2 linked regions of the Homo sapiens genome follow. The protein of the gene in region 1 purifies or fractionates together with the protein of each later gene. This does not show direct contact. Each region holds a gene or a part of one and is shown on either strand. Other genes may lie near its edges.

Region 1 (3,174 bases):
CCCAGCAATTGCAGAACAGCCCTAGTGAAGAGGAAGGAGCTGTGTGTGCACCTGGAAAGCCCACCGCATAGGGCTGGAGGCCCCAGAGAAGGCTGTTCCCAGGGGCCCGGTGCACGCACCTACATGGGAAGACATCTGCCTGCACCTAAAGGGGACCTGCCGACCCTGACATCTCTCACTGCTGGCTTTGTCCCTAGGTGGCAGGCACTGTCAGGGCAGTCCCTTTCCTACGTGGAGCTACCTGGGTCACACCACCACATCCCAGCTCCATCCTGGAGCCACAAGCAGGAGCTCTGGCTGCTGACCTGAGCGGTCACTCCCAGCTCTATGCTATGGGGACCTTGATTCTGACTCCACTCTGGGAAGGGCCAGGGCTCGGGAGGTGCACCTGTACGTCCTGACCAGCTTGTTGGCATGTGGCTCCAGCAGCAGGCCCCGCAGAGTGTTCTCCACGCAGGCCCCGATGTGGCGCTCAGGGATGCCCCGGAGCCGAGCGTACATGACCAGCATCTCCCGGCCTGTCATGTGGTCCAGCAAGGCATCAAACTGCGGGCAGTAGCCGATCCGCTGCCGCACCTGGGGTCGGAGCATAGCCGGGGAGGGAGGCGGGTTGGAGGGAAGCCTCCTTCCTCCAGAGGACCACGGGGACTACCCTTGAGGTGCCCACCACTGCGCCTGTCTGTGGTTCCTGCCAGTGTGTGTACACGGGGGCGCTGGAGCTATGCACAGGCCGTGGTGGCTGCCCACAGTGGAAGCTCTTGGAACAGGGACACAGGAAGGATGTGCCTGGTGCAGGGAGGCTTCCAGAGCTGCTCTCAGAGCCTGGTCCAGGACAGGCAGCCATGGGGTTAGGTGGTGCAAGAATGGCCTTTACGTAGAAGCAGACTCAGAGCTGGCTACCCACTCATTCACACCTGGGACATCTGATGTGCTAGGACTCTTTCTTCTCCCTCTAAGAAGAAAGATTTGTGGGCACCACGTTTGGGGTGAGTACTGCTTGGTCAGATGGTGCAGCAGCTGTTCTCTGCACAAGTGACCACGTCCAGCTGAATTAAGACGTGCCTGCTGCCATCTGCTTAGCTACCTTCAGCAGCTGGTCGGGGGCAGGAGTGCCTGGGTTCTGTGGATTCCAGAGACTGGATTTCTTTTTCTTTACCTTCCTTCTTTGGGGTTCTCAAGCTTCCAGAATTTTTTTTTTTTTTTTTGAGACAGAGTCTTACTCTGTCTCCCTTACACTGGTAGAGCGCAGTGGCATGATCTCGGCTCACTACAACCTCTGCCTCCCAGGCTCAAGTGATTCTCATGCCTCAGGCTCCCGAGTAGCTAGGATTATAGGCACCTGCCACCATGCCCTGCTAATTTTTGTATTTTTCTTTGGTAGAGACAGCATTTTGCCATGTTGGCCAGGCTGGTCTCGAACTCTAGACCTCAAGTGATCTGCCTGCCTTGGCCTTCCAAAGCTGGGATTATAGGCGTGAGCCACGCTCCCAGCCCAGAATCTGTTTTTAATCAGTTTGGGGAAAGTCTTAGCCACTACCTTTTTGGCTACTACCCCCTGCCACTCTCTCTCTCTCTTCCTTCTGGAACTCAGATTACATGTACTGGGGACTTCTCACCCTCTCCTCCATTGCTAGATCACATACGGTTTTCTCTCCCCTGCATAGATTTTCAATTGCATAATTTATTTCTGTAGACACAGTGAGTTTATAATCTTTTATAATCTGGCCTGATGATGCAGATCTAACGCCTATGTGCTTGTCCCCCCATGGGGCCTGTGTCTATTGCTTCCAGCCATGGTACCATCTCCTCTGTTTGTTTGCTGTGCATTGCCTGTAAGCCCTGGAACCCTCTATGGGGGAGTCTGCAGCCTAGGATGAGGCTTTCCTCCCGAGAGGGCCTGCATGTGCTCTGGCCCAGGGCCTCTGCTGTCCAGGCACCCCTGGTGTGAGCTCAGGAGAGGACTCCGCGGCCACTTCTCAGCCCCAGGCCCTGCTTACCATTTCCCCTGCTCTGCTTGGCACACTTGAATTCCCATGCAGGCCCCGGGCAGAGGTGCAGGAGGGCTGCCTCTGGTCCTTCTGCGGGGGAGCTGGTGGGGCTCAGCTCAACATGGGAAAGCTGGGCGGGCCCAGGGCCTTCCATCCCTTCACTCAGCAAGGCCTCTAACCCCACACCTGAGCTGCCTGGACACAGAATGGCCTCTGCACAGAGGTGGCTGTCAGTGCTGAATGCGCCTCTCTGGGCTCACGGATGTTGGCACCCATCTCTCTCCCCTCCCATCACCTGCTAGTTCTGGCGAAGCTTAGCTTTAGCTCATTACCTTGTCTCGCTGTCCAGAGGCATGTGCTGGGCCCATTTCAAGCCACAGATGCAGCAGCTGTTTGGGGACAGCATCCCTCTGTCCCTGCCTCCAGGGTGCCCCCTCCAGCCATGCCTGTCTCACCCCTTCAGAGCCTCCCTGGCTGCACCCACCTTTCCGACATCAGAGCTGATTCTGTGACCCCCGACAAAGGCATCCCCAGAAGTGAGGCTCTCCTCCCCGGTCAGCATTTTGAAAGTCGTGGTCTTCCCGGCTCCATTGAAGCCCAGCAGGCCGAAGCACTCCCCTTTCTGCACCGCGAGGGAGAGCCTGTCCACGGCCAGGAGGGGCACCCGCTGCTCGTACACCTGCAGGCACCCAACAGAAAACACGGAATGCGGAGGCCTGGACGCAAAGCAGAGCAGTCTGAGCCTCAGCGCCGAAAGCTTCCAGGGATGGGGTCGGACCCTGGGGACAGCCAGGTAGTCAGCTGGCAGGAAGGACTCCACCCCAAATTGCAAGGGTACCTTGGAGAGCTCCTTGATAATCAGAGGTGTGTGGAGCAGGGAGTCCGGACTGGGGGCCAGGATGCGGGTCCTCTCGTCCGCTACATCTTGGTCCTCAGGAAGCACAGGCATCCGGGTGTATAATTCTGTCTGATTGACCAGGACAAAGACCGCATGCGTGAACCCAGCCGCAGGGCGGCTTCCGTGGAGAAGGGAGGGGCGGGGGTGGATGTGGGAGGTCTGGTGGGACTAAGGCCTTCAAGGCTTCTCGTCCCAATCTCAGGCCCCACAGGTGCGACTCAGACCTTTTACTAGAAGACACAGTGGTCTTACGGGGCTAAACTAGCATCCAGGAGACATAAACTATCT
Region 2 (3,500 bases), on another chromosome or scaffold:
TCTTTTAGATCTAAAGTTCCTTGTTCTGGAAACCATGGGCAAAATTGTTCTATTATTTGAAATAGCTTGATTAGATTTTTTTGTAGATACTTTAACTCCCCCTCTTTTTAAAAGAATTTTAATAAAGCTGAGATAAGAGGCATATTTACTTTTAATTTTACTTTTAGTTTGCCCCATTATTACCCTAGCTTCTTCCGAGCTCACAAGCTTACCGTACGGCTGACTGTATATGTACTCGGGATCTCTCGTCGACTTGTGCTCAATGACCACGCTCGAGCGTACCTTCACCCTAGAGAAAAGCCTCCACGTTGGGCACCAGATGAAGGGGTGGGTTGCCCCTCCACACCTGCCTGGAATGGAGGGTGAAGTTCCCAAGGAAAGAACAGTGTCTAATGCTAGAGTTCTCTGAGTTATTGCTCAGTCAACCACATCACCATGGTTACCGTAAGAAAATTGGGCAGTTTTCCCATACTAATGGTAAACATTTTTTTCTGATTAGCCTGGATCTGAGTTTCTGGATTCTGTTATAAACCACTTCTCCTTTGAAGAATCCTGTCTTTAATGTACAAAGAACAGTTTGCAAAACATCCCCGTAAGCCCTTTTTCTGGTGAACACTGAGAGAACATTTCTGAGCAGTTTTGTAAGCTCCAGAGCCTAGGATGCTGCTGTGTTGGCCCTGGGATCTGGGACTTGGTGGAATGAAGAGAAGGGCAGGAGGGCAAGGTGAGCTGCACTGAGATTGGTTCTGTGTATGAGTTTCCTAATTAGCTGCCTTAACAACACATCACAAACTGAATGGCCACACATTTCTGGAGGCTAGAAGGGCAAAATCAAGGTGTCAGCAGGATTAGTTCTTTCTTAAGGTGTTAGGCAATAATCTGTTCAAGGCCTCTCGCCTAGTTTCCGGTGGTTTGGTGATCTTTGTTGTTGCTGTTTGTTGTGGTTGTTCTTCCTATATGTTTGTTTCATTTCCTGAACTAATTCTGTTAAGTCTGTATTCTTTGTCATTGTCATGTGTGACCACTGAAGTCTGTTTGGTTGGCTTAGTGGTCAGCTAGTGATTAGACAGATACTCCCTTAATTGCTTTGAAACAATAAGTGTCTCAGCCTTTGCTGAGAGGTTCTGTGTGTGTGTTGTGGGTGGTGGGGAGCATGTCTTCAGCACTCCAGCAATTTACATCTCTGCCTTAGCCTTCACTTCCTGCTTATACAGAGCCACATAGTCAGCCGGAAGTGAAAGATTAGAGCCCTCTTCCATCTTTCCTGGACATGTGCACAGCTCTGCATGTGTAGGTGGCATTCTAGATTGCTGGGAATATATCAGAGAGATCAGAGACCCTGTGAGCATCTTATTCCCCAGCTTTTCCTTTTAAGTTTTTGGTCAGCTTCTTATTTGCCCCAAGTGTTATCACCACCTCAGGCAGCTGCTGTGATGTTAAATAATTGCTGCTGGTTTTTTGAGCTAGCTCAGTGTTAGGTCAAATAGGCCCTATAAATGGGGGTTTTCAGAGAATTCCAGATAGGTGAGATAATGTCAGTTCTCCAGGGATGGGGTTTTTGGGAGCATTCTGAACCCACTCTGCCCCCTCCAGTGGCTGCTAGGCTGCTGGTTTTCATGGCTGCTATGATTGTATGGCTGTTAGTTTTCTAGGTTATAGCAGCCAAGGAGAGGGGGGACAGAAATAGGGTAAGTTAAACTGCCACAAAACTTACTGTTCTTACTAAGTTTCAGCTCTTCAAAAACACAAATGCTCCTGGGATTGTTGCAAGCCTTTGGTTAATTTCAGAGCTCTGAAAAAGTTGACTTTGACCATTTTTAATCATTATTCTAATTGCTTTTATGGAGGAGTAGATATCTGGAGGTTCCTATTCTACCATCCCCACTGATGCCCACACTGTGTCTTATATTTTATTTTATTTTATTTTCCGGGTATGTCTTTTAAGTGATTTAAATTAATATAAGTTTGTTAAATTATTTGAATTTCAAGATGAGCATTTTCTTTTCTGTTTTGAGAGAGTCTCACTCTGTTGCCCAGGCTGGAGTACATTGGCACAATCATGGCTCACCTTCAACCTCCTGTGTTCAAGTGATCCTCTCACCTCAGCCTCCCAAGTAGCTGGGACCACAGGCATGCACCATCACACCCTGCTAATTTTTAAATTTTTGTAGACATAGAGTTTGCCTATGTTGCCCAAGGTGGTCTCAAACTCCTGGGCTGAAGTGATCCTCCCACCTTGGCCTCCCAAAGGGCTGGGATTACAGGTGTGAGCCACCACGCCTGGCCAAGATGAGCATTTTCAATTTACAATCACTTCTTTAGTCAATTCTGAGAATGTGACTCTTCTATTTGTCTACCATAATCCTTAAAAGCTCTTTCCTCCTCCAAAGGAACCTGGGCATTTCTAGGAATTTTCTTCTCCATTTTGACCATTTTCTCTTCCAGTGGAATATTAATTCATCTCTCCTTTATCCTGATATTTCTTAATAACAAGATGTACTAATAACTATGTATGGAGTATTTATGGAGTAAAGTATTCCATGCTGTATGTACATCTGGGATCCCTTGCTGAAACCAGCAAGATCAGAGGAGGCTTCTCTCTCCTTGTTCATAGGACTGACAGGGATCTATGCAGCTCTTTCCCTAACCTCTACTGTGTCTCCCTAGTCCATGATGGCAGTGAAGAAGAAGACGATGACTATGGGCTGATATCCAGTGTGGAAGAGATCCCCGAAGATGCAGCCTCCATAACCATGAGAAGAGAGAACAGCTTTCGTCGAACACTTAGCCGCAGGTTGGCTATCTATTCAGCTGGCAGCCCTCGTCAGCTCTATATTTCCACTTGATCTTTTTCTTTTTCTTCCTGGGCTTTTCCTGTGAGGGTTAACACCATGGACACTCCAAGCTCTTCCTTTGTTTCTTTGTTGTGGGGATGGGGAAAGATCGGGGTTGTGTCAGTTTCCCCTGGTCATCTGCCCTGAAATGCGCTTTGATGCCAGCTGAGTGACTGTGACATCTGCTTGCAAGAAGACCCTTGGGAATTGCCTGCATGCTCAGGGAAGCTTCCCTCTCTCAGTTCTAGGTCCAATGGCAGGCATCTGAAGTCCCTGAGAAACTCCTTGAAAACTCGGAATGTGAATAGCCTGAAGGAAGACGAAGAACTAGTGAAAGGACAAAAACTAATTAAGAAGGAATTCATAGAAACTGGAAAGGTGAACACCACACAGAAAAGTAGCATTTGAGGTGTTATAAGGTTTAGAACCCAAAATTTTTAACGTTCAGTGAAAATTGAACGCATACTTACAGGAGCAATATGTCCTCTGTCCTTTGCAAATCTTCAGACTCATTATTAACCTGTTAGCAGAGGCTGTGGGCTTTCTACCAAGTCATATTTCCATAAAGAATGCTATGTTTCCTGTGAATGTCCTCATCCTACACTTCATGAGTGTTTGATTCCATTCTGATGTGTGGAGGAACAGGAAAACTCAGACCTAGAGCAC

What was found. The genes of interacting proteins can lie anywhere in the genome.
Region 2: the proteins of ABCA3 (region 1) and ABCC2 fractionate together in Homo sapiens (co-fractionation; one large-scale study listed by BioGRID). This does not show direct contact.

Annotation. Positions count from the first base shown.
Region 1 is NC_000016.10:2,278,555-2,281,728, forward strand, and holds part of ABCA3 (phospholipid-transporting ATPase ABCA3), read right to left. Parts: intron 2,956-3,174; coding exon 2,827-2,955; intron 2,668-2,826; coding exon 2,473-2,667; intron 577-2,472; coding exon 389-576; intron 1-388. UniProt on the Homo sapiens protein: Catalyzes the ATP-dependent transport of phospholipids such as phosphatidylcholine and phosphoglycerol from the cytoplasm into the lumen side of lamellar bodies, in turn participates in the lamellar bodies biogenesis and homeostasis of pulmonary surfactant.
Region 2 is NC_000010.11:99,827,640-99,831,139, forward strand, and holds part of ABCC2 (ATP-binding cassette sub-family C member 2), read left to right. Parts: intron 1-2,667; coding exon 2,668-2,794; intron 2,795-3,076; coding exon 3,077-3,212; intron 3,213-3,500. UniProt on the Homo sapiens protein: ATP-dependent transporter of the ATP-binding cassette (ABC) family that binds and hydrolyzes ATP to enable active transport of various substrates including many drugs, toxicants and endogenous compound across cell membranes.